3 linked regions of the Homo sapiens genome follow. The protein of the gene in region 2 interacts with the protein of the main gene of each other region in a pairwise test. Each region holds a gene or a part of one and is shown on either strand. Other genes may lie near its edges. The genes, in order: JUP, DDX6 and BEND7.

Region 1 (3,750 bases), on a different chromosome or scaffold from region 2:
TGGGTTCAAGTGATTCTCCTGCCTCAGCCTCCTGAGTAGCCAGGATTACAGGCGTGTGCCACCACCCCCGGCTGATTTTTGTATTTTTAGTAGAGACAGGGTTTCACCATGTTGCGCAGGCTGGTCTTGATCTCCTGACCTCGTGATTCGCCCGCCCCGGCCTCCCAAAGTGCTGGGATTACAGGCGTGAGCCACCTCACCTGGCCCAAACCAAGCACTTTCATTAACTATTTTTACTTAATCCTTATGGCTGGCCAGGCTGGATGGCTCAGACCTGCAATCCCAGCACGTTAGGAGGCCCAGAAGGGTGGACTGCTTGATTGAGCCCAGGAGTTCCAGACCAGCCTGGGCAACATGGAGAAACCCTGTCTCTACAAAAAAATAGAAAAATTAGCCGGGCGTGGTGGTGCATGCCTGTGGTCCCAGCTACTGGGAATGTTGAGGTGGGAGGATTACCTGAGCCCAGGGAAGTCAAGGCTGCAGTGAGCTGTGTCACTGTATTCCAGCCTGGGCAACAGAGTGAGTCCCTGACTCAAAAAAAAAAAAAAAACAAAAAAAACGCGTATCATTATTCGCATTCTACAGAGGAGGAAATTGAAACTCAAGGAACTTAAGTAATTTCCCCAATGTTGTACAGCGAGACCCAAGCAGCACCAAGACTGACGTTTGGGTCCTCTGATTCCAAGCCCAGAACCCATCCTGCTGTATTGCCCCATGCAGCTCTGGAAAGGATTTTTTTTTTTTTTTTGAGATGGAGTCACGCTCTGCCACCCAGGCTGGAGTGCAGTGGCGCGATCTCGGCTCACTGTAACGTCTACCTCCTGGGTTCAAGCGATTCTCCTGTCTCAGCCTCCCGAGTAGCTGGGATTACAGGCATGCACCACCACACTAGGCTAATTTTTGTATTTTTAGTAGAGATGGGGTTTCACCATGTTGGTCAGGATGGTCTCGAACTCCTGACCTTCAGGAGATCCGCCCGCCTCAGCCTCCCAAAGTGCTGGGATTACAGGTGTGAGCGGAAAGGATTTTTCTGCACCCCCTTTTGAGAGCCTCTGCCTGACTGGGGAGAAGAGAATTCAGAAGGGCCCATGAAGGCATGTGTGAGTGGTGAATGTAGGGCAGGTTTTGTAGGTGGGGGTGATACCTGTCCTGGCCACCAGCCCACTTAAATCTCCCCAGTGGCTTGATTTTTAGTTTCCGGTGGAAGCGGCTTCTCCCCAAGGCCAGGGCTGTGGTGAGTGTTGGGGGGAGGTTGAGAGGGAAAGAGGAGGCAGGGGTCAAAGCTGTGCTGCCTCCTAGCTTGGGTTAGGTAGAACCATGGCTGTTCTGGGCTTGTTCATGTGTAGGAAGTGGGAGTTGCCTGCTTTGCTGGGGGCTGGGGCTATGCCAAGATAAAGGGGTGCTGCCCTGTGGGGATTGGCGAGAAACGAGAGTCCGATTTAGGCCTGGGCTAATGTCCTGCTGGAGTTGACGAGGCAGTGCTGCCAGGCTGCTCTTGATGGGGAACTGGCTGTCCTCTGCTCTGAAGCCCAAGAGACCTGAGATAGGCAGCTGCTGGGAGGGCTTTTCTGGTGATGGAGGTGGGGGTCATGTGTGCTGCCTGTCAGCCAGAGCCTTGGCCCTCTAGGGAGGAGCTGGTGTCAGATTGTTCTCCAGACCTGCCTGGTTCTGGTGTCTCTGCCAACTGGACATCTGACACCAGAATGGGCCTGGATTTGGGGTCTGGGAAATGGGTTCTCTTTATGTGATGGTGCAGCCGGAGTACTGAACCTGTCACTACCGCGCTTCTGGATTCCCTGAGGGCAGGCGGGGACCCCAGGCAACGGGATTATTGATCGTGGAGAAGGCTAATGGGACTTGAGACAGAGAAGAAAACAGAATGAACCCCATCCCACTGACTACTACAAAGAGGGCATGAGGTTGCAGTTTTTCCATCTCCCCCGAGGACTTGAGAGCTGCAGGCCCGATGCACTTACTGAAGGGACGCAGTCTAGACAGGAGGAGGGGCTTTCTGCCTGCTAAAGATGAAATCTTGAGTTGAGAAATAAGAGGGAGAGGTGGAGACTCAGCATTGACTCTTCTCTGATGAGGGCCATCCTGTGCGGCAGGGAGGCCAGACAGGAATTGCTGCCCTTTGGGGAGACTCCTCATTTGTATCTTTTGGGAGAAGAGCGACCTGGCAGTGAGAGGGAAAGGCATCTGTGAGCTGGTCCTGTGACCCCTGTGAAGAGGAAAAGCAAGCAGTGTGGCTGGGCAGGTCACCAGGGCTTGTGTTCCTGCAAGTGACACTGAGCGGCCTCTCCTGGGACATGGTTGAGTCTGGGGACATGGAATATCTTATTGTGAAGCGACTTCCTCTGCCAGGCCTGAAGGGCAAGCTCATGGACCACTCTCCTTTGCTCAGCCTCCTGGCATCTTGGCCTTTGGGGCCAGCAGAGCAGGAAGCTCAGCTTTCTTTTTCTCTTTCTTTCTTTCTTTTTTTTTTTTTGAGATGGAGTCTCTCACTCTGTCACCCAGACTGGAGTGTAGTGGCACAATCTTGGCTCACTGCAACCTCCATCTCCCGGGTTCAGGTGATTCTCCTGTCTCAGCCTCCCGCGTAGCTGGGACTACAAGCGCCTGCCAGTACGCCCAGCTAATTTTTTTTTTTTTTTTTTTTTGAGACGGAGTCTCACTCACTCTGTCGCCCAGGCTGGAGTGCAGTGGCACGATCTCCGCTCGCTGCAAGCTCCGCCCCCTGGGTTCACACCATTCTCCTGCCTTAGCCTCCCGAGTAGCTGGGACTACAGGCGCCCGCCACCACGCCTGGCTAATTTTTTTGTGTTTTTAGTAGAGACGGGGTTTCACTGTGTTTGCCAGGATGGTCTCGATCTCCTGACCTCATGATCCACCCGCCTCGGCCTCCCAAAGTGCTGGGATTACAGGCGTGAGCCACTGTGCCCGGCCTAATTTTTGTATTTTTAGTAGAGACGGGGTTTCACCATATTGGTCAGGCTGGTCTTGAACTCCTGACCTCAGGTGATCCACTCACCTTGGCCTCCCGACATGCTGGGATTATAAGCGTGAGCCACCGCTTTTGGCACTCAGCTTTCTTTCCTCCTCCCTTCTCCTCTTCTCTTTTCTTTCTTTTTTTTTTTTGGTTTGTTTTTTGAGATGGAGTCCTGCTCTGTCGCCCAGGCTGGAGTGCAGTAGTGCAGTCTTGGCTCACTGCAACCTCTGCCTCCTAGGTTCAAGCAATTCTCCTGCCTCATCCTCCTAAGTAGCTGGGACTACAGGCATGCGCCACCATGCCCAGCTAATTTTTGTATTTTTAGTAGAGATGGGGGTGTCACTATGTTGGCCAGGCTGGTCTTGAATTCCTGACCTCAAGTGATCCACCCACCTCAGCCTCCCAAAGTGCTGGGATTACAGGCGTGAGCCACTGCGCCCGGCCTTCTTTCCTTTTTTTGAGGTAGGGACTCGCTCTGTCCCTTAGGCTAGAGTGCAGTGGCGTGATCACAGCTCACTGCATCCTTGAATTCCTGGGTTCAAGCAATCCTCCCGCCCAGCCTCCCAAGTAGCTGGGTCCACAGGTGTGCACCACCATGCCCAGCTAATTTTTAAAGTTTTGTGTAGAGACAGGGTCTTGCTATGTTGCCCAGGCTGGTCTTGGACTCCTGAGCTCAAGCATTTGTCCCATCTCAGCCTCCCAAAGTGCTGGGATTATGGGCATGAGCCACCATGCCCAGCTGAAGCTCAGCTTTCTGTGTC
Region 2 (3,750 bases):
ACCTGAGGTCAGGACTTCAAGACCAGCCTGGCCAACCTGGTGAGACCCCGTGTCCACTAAAGATACAGAAAATTAGCCAGGCATGGTGGCGGGCGCCTGTAATCCCAGCTAGTCAGGAGGCTGAGGCAGGAGAATCTCTTGAACCTGGGAGGCAGAGGTTGCAGTGAGCCGAGGTCATGCCATTGCACTCGAGCCTGGGCGATAAGAGTGAAACTCTGCCTCATATATAAATAACCCACTCTGATTTCCTAGGTAATAAGAGTGAAACTCCGTCAAATACATAAATAAAATACCCACTCTGATTTCCTGGACAACCTGTCTTCCCATCTTTTTTTTATTTTTATTAAGATGGGATCTCACTATGTTGCCCCGGCTGGTTTCAAACTCCTGGGTTCAAATGATCCTCCCACTTTGGCTTCCCAGAGTGCTGGGATTATAGGTGTGAGCCACCACGCCCTGCCTCTATCATCTTTTGGTGACTATTGGGCTCTAGTTAGAAATGCATGAAACAAGGCTCAGCTTTAAGCAAGGTAGGTTGTTTCAGTATTTCCTAAAGAAAATCTGATTTGACAAAGGATAGTTTCCAAGTTATAGGTGAACATCTTACCTATTTAAGTAACCTAATGTTACTTAAATTTTTTTTCTCTTTCTTTTTTAAATAGAGACGAGGATTTACCATGTTGGCCAGGCTGGTCTCAAACTCCTGACCTCAGGTGATCCGCCCACCTCAGCCTCCCAGAGTGCTGAGATTACTGGCAGGAGCCACCTCACCCAACCAATTGTTACTTAAATAATTTTTAAATTACTCTGTACTCTTTTTTTCCTTAAGTTAAACATCAAACACAAACTCTTGGACAAGCATGAAACTAGCCAATGTTTGCTAGTACTTTGGCAGAGTATTCAGTTTGTGTAAGGTTAATTTTTTTCCCCCGGATTTGTTACGAGTGAGGGCTGCCTGCTATCAGAACATTCACATTCATTCAGGCCCCCAATCTATCTCAGGGTTGCCTACCAGAAATTATTTAATCCTATAACCAGTAGATTCTATAGTAGGCACAGGGTTAGTAGAAACTACTAGAAAAGAGCATTTGGGATGAGGATTGTGAAAACCTATGTATCCTAGTTTGTGTTGCTTTCAGAATGTTAATTTTGTATTCTCTTCTTCTGTAGGCTTTGACAAATTACAAAAGGCTCGTTTGGATCTGTGACACATCGTTTTGGGGGGAATGCTCCTCTCTTTGTGGGTTTTTCATCTTTTATTTTGGAACTATGAAGACTTAAAAGAGCTCAGACATTTTCTTTTTTTAACTGGTGAAGAGAAAAAGGCTGAAAAGAAGGAATATACCTTTTTTGTTCCACTTGTTTGCACTGTGTGCTGACTGAACATTAGTTGCACTAACTGCTGGTTTTTAAAAAATGTTTTCTGGGGAAAGGGGACAAGGAAGGAAAAGAAAGAAGAGAAGGGGAGAAACCCTAAAAAGAGAAGAATCTTAATGAACACACAAGCTTGTCAATGATTTCAAAATTCTCCAACAGCTGACTCTCGTGCATTTCAACTTCTCCCTGATTCCTCATCCGTTTTTTAAGCCTGAAGAGCTTATTACTTATTTGTGCGAAGTGCCTTATGCTATGAGACCATTCAGAATATCATCTTTTAGACACAGCCCGAGGAATCAACAATAGTAACTCTTTCTTTCCGTTTTTTTTTCTTTTTCTTTTAAAAAATGTCTTCTTATTTTGGTTTCAGGTTGAAGTCTCTTCCCTTTCTACCCAGTACTCGAGCCCAGGGCTAGAAGTTGAAACTCACTAGTAATGTTAAACACCATTTTTTTTTTCTTTTTGGGGAGGAGTTGATATGCAACTGCAGTTCATCCGCACTGTAAATACATGTATTTAAAAAAACAATCCCAAGTAAAAATTTCTTCTGGGCTGAGTAGATAAAAAACATCATCGCTCCCAAAGGAAAGAGCAGTCTATCATTGCAGGAGCCATATGACAAGCCTTTGTGCTCTATAGCAGACACTAAAGACTGGGTTACATATGCCTCCAGTAGTAGTATGGCACTTGATGTGTAGACATGTCAGAGCCTTGGCCCTCTTTCCTCTGTGGCAAAGCGTGTCCCATAGAAAATTGGGTGTGTATACTTGTATAACTTTGTAAATAAGTTTTTTTTCTGGGTTCATATATATATATATATATACATATATATATATTTTTTTTTGGATGAAGGTTGCTGGGATTAAGGGGATTAGAGTGATTATGGGAGCAGCTAAAGATGAGAGGGGCTCAGTTTTACGCAACACTAAATTCTAGAAAGTACTTTGGCCTCGTGCTGTAGAGAGCAGATTTCTATGGTACCCTGTGTTAGTAAAGGGGCCCAGAAATCTGGGATGTACTGTTTGCTGCCACACTGTCTCATCTAGTACCTTTGGAGTAGGTTTACCAGAGAGAGCAAGGAAGCTTCAAAACATTGATAATTCAACATTTATTTTGAGAAGCTCTGATTTTGCTTCTTCCCCCTTTCTAAAAGTTTGAGGAATATTTCAAGCTCTGCAACAGGGGGCAAAGATTAATCTACCTTGCAGTGTAGGAATTCTATTGAGTGGCAGTGTCATTGAGCAGTATATATATAAAGCACAGATTTGCATTTCAGAATATTAGCCAGTACCAGCTTTGGTAATGTTAGCAGTTCTGGAGCTTAATTTTCTGTGGATCATTTCCTGTAGTGTGTAAATGTGTTGCCCTCTGCCCGCTTTGATACATAAACTTTTGCAGGAATGGGCAACCTGAGAGCTGTTAACTTTCATGCTACAGAAAGCTGCTTGCCATTCTCTTGCATTGTGACAAGAATTGTTACCTGTCATTTTGCACTGTAAATTGCTGGCAGATGCTTTACAGTCAATAGTGTTGCTTTAAATTGTGCCCCTCCCAACATGCTTGATGTTTGGCCTGATCTCCAGGCAAAAGGAGTGAGATGAATCAAAACCAGTGAACTTTTTTTTTTAATGTTTTTAATTCCCTTTTAACCCAGTGTACTAGGTCAATCAGGAGGCATCTGGAAAGGGGGGGAAAAAAGCAAAAAACAAAATTAAAAAAAATTGATTTCCATATTTTATTTTTCAAAACCCTAAAATATTACAAAATAAGTCCCGCATATACTTTAATGTTTTAACTCTTTTGGACAAAGGAATCAATTACTTGAAGTTGCTTTTTTGACTCTGCCTACTTCTGAGCAAACTATTTGCGACTCACCCACAATTCCTTGGAGATCAAAATCCTACAGATGCCTCCTGATGGGACATAGCCCTAACTCCTTAACAACTGTAGCAAGAACTGCACGGTACAAACCCAAAAAAGAACAAGCTCATCTATTTGGAACCCAAGCCTCATATTTTCTGTCCAGTCAATGTTGGTTACTAAATAGAAAACCTAATTAAGGAAGTAACTTTTTTCCAGGGAGGGGTGGGAGAGGGAATTTAAAAGGTGTCAACTTTTGACCAAAAAAATTGTGCCCTTGTACCGATGCAGCTCTCTTTCTCCCCCACCTCTTGCGAGATAAGAGGGATCATTCATGTAGAAGAAAAGAGTATAAATGCAATTCTGTATCTCGCTAGAGAACGTGTGGGTGACTAAACAAAAAGTGCAGTCTCCTTCACCAACTTTAGACTGCGTGGTGCCACATGCCTGTGGGTCCCTCTTAAAGCACAGACTTAAAATGGAAAGTATTACTGAAGTATAGCCTCTAATGAG
Region 3 (3,750 bases), on a different chromosome or scaffold from region 2:
ACACAGCCCATTTTTTTAGGTAGGTTCCTATGTCAATTAATACCTCAGCAAAACATCGTGACCATTTGCAATTAGGGGGAAAAAAGGAAATTGTTCAGGAACGGGAAATGTCTGCCATTGCTTAATGTATGACATTCTTTTCAAGACCTTTTATTTTACAGATTGCCAATATATCCCTTATTAACATTGCTAAAAGTTGTAATTTCAGACATAAATGTTTATTAGTGTCTACACACAGTGCTAATTATCACTCACTCACAGAGCCAGATGCTGACTGTGCAGTTTTGTGGCTCTGCGCTCACCCCATTTACATTGCATATTCGTTGGCATGCTTCACTGGCAATAGTTTGTGTAATTGGGGTATTACATCTTTGACATCTGGATAACAGAAATTCAATTTCCAGGAAGCTGCTATTTGTTTGGTTTTGCTTCTGCCTTGGGTGGGATAGAGGATTAATGTGCTGTCTTATAATGTCCCTTCACCTCTGTGGCCCAGTTGCTAATCCTGCCATGACAAAATTAAATTAAATCTACAGTCAAAAAGCATAAGGAAAATAAAAGTGTGACTGTCTGCCTAACCAGCTCTTGATAGTGCTAGTTATCATCAAGCAGCTCCTCATTTTCCTGACTTTGTGCTCCTTTCACACCAGCATTTTGGGACAGGGGGAACAGCATGCTTTCCTCTTACCATCCTTGTTCCCAGCTCACGTCAGGGATGAGCAGAGCTAAAACAGCATTTCTGAGACTTTCCAGCAAGTGTAGCTGCATGATGGGTGGGTAGGTAGCCACAAACATTGCCACCTTTTCCATGTGCAGTGTTGGTGCAAATACTGTACAGGAAAGACTTTGGATGTGCAGTTTTTTATTTGCACACAATCAGCCAAAAATGAAACCACGTAAGATTTTGCCTCTAAGAGTGAAGTACCCATAAGGTCAGGGTGGAGAGTAGATGGTGGCGTTGGGCCTCAACCTTGTCCATCTTGGACCTCTGCAATCCCAGGTAGCAGGGTGAGGGCACAGCACTGCACAGCAAGGAAGCAGAACATGAGAGAGGTCAGAGCGAGAACGATTACAAGCAAAGCCACAATTACCCCATCAAGGGGGACTTCAGGTAGCAGGACTGCTGCTCAGACCCGGTGTGGGTCAGCCTTCAAACGAAGCTCTCGCCAGGATCTCTCTGGTTTTGCTTTGAGGGATAGAAAGGGTGGGTCGGGATGCATTGGGAAGAAGTCAAATATTAATATATACTTTAAGAGGAAAAATAGGAGGGAAATGTCAGCATTTCTTACATGAGCGATCATTGATAGCACATAGATCTTTCTGCTGAGGGAAAGAATATCACTGGGGCCAGCACTGCTCCCAGTACCTGTTTACTGTTAAGAGAGCTAGGAGCCAAAAGGTTAATAATCAAGTGAAATGCTGTGGCCCAGAAAGAGAATATTCTTGGATTCTAGTCTTTCCAGTCCCCTAAACTTGGTCAGTTGGAATTCTTTTTTTTTTTTTTTTTTTTTTGAGACGGAGGTTCACTCTTTTTATCCAGGCTGGAGTGCAATGGCATGATCTCGGCTCACTGCAACCCCTGCCTCCCAGGTTCAGGCGATTCTCCTGCCTCAGCCTCCTGAGTAGCTGGGATTACAAGCACCTGCCACCACGCTTGGCTAATTTTTTGTATTTTTAGTAGAGACAGAGTTTTACCATGTTGGCCAGGCTGGTCTCAAACTCCTGACCTCAGGTGATCCACCTGCCTCAGCCTCCCAAAGTGCTGGGATTACAGGCGTGAGCCACCGTGCCTGGTTGGTCAGCTGGAATTTTGTATTATCAAAGTACCACTCTATATAGCCATTCGAAATAACGAATTTACCCTTTAGTAGAAAATTTACGTTCACCATACAAAGGGAACATCATGTCCTTGATTTAGTTCTCCAGCAAGGCAGGCTTTCCCGCACTTTCTGTTGTGTACTACTAGAAAAGTGGTAAGGTCACTACGAAGGAAGTGAATTGTAAGGATAAGAGAGGGGAAGCTGAAGAGCAACAGGATGCTAGTGCCCAGGATTCAGTAAGCTGGAAACTCCCAGAGATGATAGACGTTGTTGCTTTTCTTCTTCCTAGTCCAAGTTGAGGAAGATGCAAGAATTCCAATGAAGGACCAGGCTTGAGATAGATACGCTTTCAAAGTGGTTGCTCCAGAAGGCCTTCAACATCAAGAGACAAAAGATTGAACAGCCTGGGAGTGTGCTGTGGGTTATTTTCAATCTTTTGCTCATTCTTGGGTCATCATGTAGTTGGTTCCCAAATAACATTTTTATTTTGTGATCTCTAGGTCAGTTAAGAAAAAATAACAGAAATTGTCACAGCAACATGATTTCTGGAGCAATTGAGAATAGTTACTGATGGCATCTGAGAGTAGGAATTTTTTGTTGACAGTGTTATAGTTTATAGTTTTATAGTTACACTTTTCAAAACATAAAGATTTCAATTATGTTTATTTTATAAATTGCTAAAGCCTGTCCATAAAGATGTAGAATTATATGGGAAGCTTATGACATCCAAGGGGGTTTGGTACCAAAATACTAGAACTCTTTCCCCTATAACAAAGTACTGACACACTGTCCCAGGGATGGTCTATAGGATTTTCTACATTCAAACATATGTGTTCCCTTTAATAGTATCTGCATCTATAAGATCAAAGTTTATGTTCTAGGTGAAAAAGAGTCTTCTAGAATGTGGCAGAGGTTCCCACATCAAGTCTACCTCTCTGGAACATGTTTAGGCTGTTAACGAACGTAGTGTATCTCACATGGTAGGGTAGCTCAGTAGTGTAAATGGCTTGGCCTCGTGCTTTAGGAATTACTCACATATTTTTAATTGGATAATAGGGTCAGAAGACGTTACTTTACCCTGTGGACATTGACTTTCTCAAGCTGGCTGTGATGGGACTACAGTGAAGATTTAAGCACTGTTTGAAAGGAAACAGTTCTCTTAAATCAGTTCAGCCAGTGTCTTTATAGAAGATACTCTGAACTCAGCACTTTTCTGGAATGGGAGTGGGGTCAGAGATAGTCACAGAAATGGATAGGACAGGGACCTTGTTCTCAGGGATTCAGATCCAGCTGGGGAGGAGACAGGACAAATTCAGGAAACGGAGCAGTATTCAGCAATCGTAAGAGCTACAGTTGTTTGAGCACTTAACTGTGTGCAAGGCAGCACACTGAGCACTTTACATGAAAGACCTGATTTGCTCTTTGCAGCATGTCTGTATGAGTTACCGTCATCCCCATTTTGTAGATGAGCCTAGAGATGTCGAGGTGACCTGCCCAAGGTCTCTCAAGTAGGAAGTGCCACAGGTAGGGTTCCAGTGCAGGTCTGTCTGAGCTTTGAACACTCCACTTAACCGCCTGTCTGTGAACGGTAATTAAATGACAAATGTGAATGATCAGGGCAACAGCAAATGCAGAGTTGGAAGGGGTAGAGGGGAGGGCTCTGCAAAGCAGAGATGTTGAACTACAGGAAAGATTCGCTCCTGTATTTCTCCTCCCTGGAGAAGATTCCAGGTGGGAAGGGTGAGGGAGCCGCCAATAAGCATCATTATAGCTCGACCATGAGTGTTGCACTTATGGTTTAGAAAGTGCTTTCACATCTGTCTTCTCGGGATTTTTACCATATACCTGTGGGGTAGTCAGGGCAGATATAATGATTCCTATAATGATGGGAACCGAAGCTCAGTTACCTGACCTCACGAATAGCAGAGGC

What was found.
Region 1: the proteins of DDX6 (region 2) and JUP interact in binary tests that used the Homo sapiens proteins (3 or more experiments, as listed by UniProt).
Region 3: the proteins of DDX6 (region 2) and BEND7 interact in binary tests that used the Homo sapiens proteins (3 or more experiments, as listed by UniProt).

The regions. Positions count from the first base shown.
Region 1 is NC_000017.11:41,780,095-41,783,844, reverse strand, and holds part of JUP (junction plakoglobin), read left to right. Parts: intron 1-3,750. UniProt on the Homo sapiens protein: Common junctional plaque protein. The membrane-associated plaques are architectural elements in an important strategic position to influence the arrangement and function of both the cytoskeleton and the cells within the tissue.
Region 2 is NC_000011.10:118,749,518-118,753,267, reverse strand, and holds part of DDX6 (probable ATP-dependent RNA helicase DDX6), read left to right. Parts: intron 1-1,170; 3' UTR 1,171-3,750.
Region 3 is NC_000010.11:13,522,407-13,526,156, reverse strand, and holds part of BEND7 (BEN domain-containing protein 7), read left to right. Parts: coding exon 1-19; intron 20-3,750.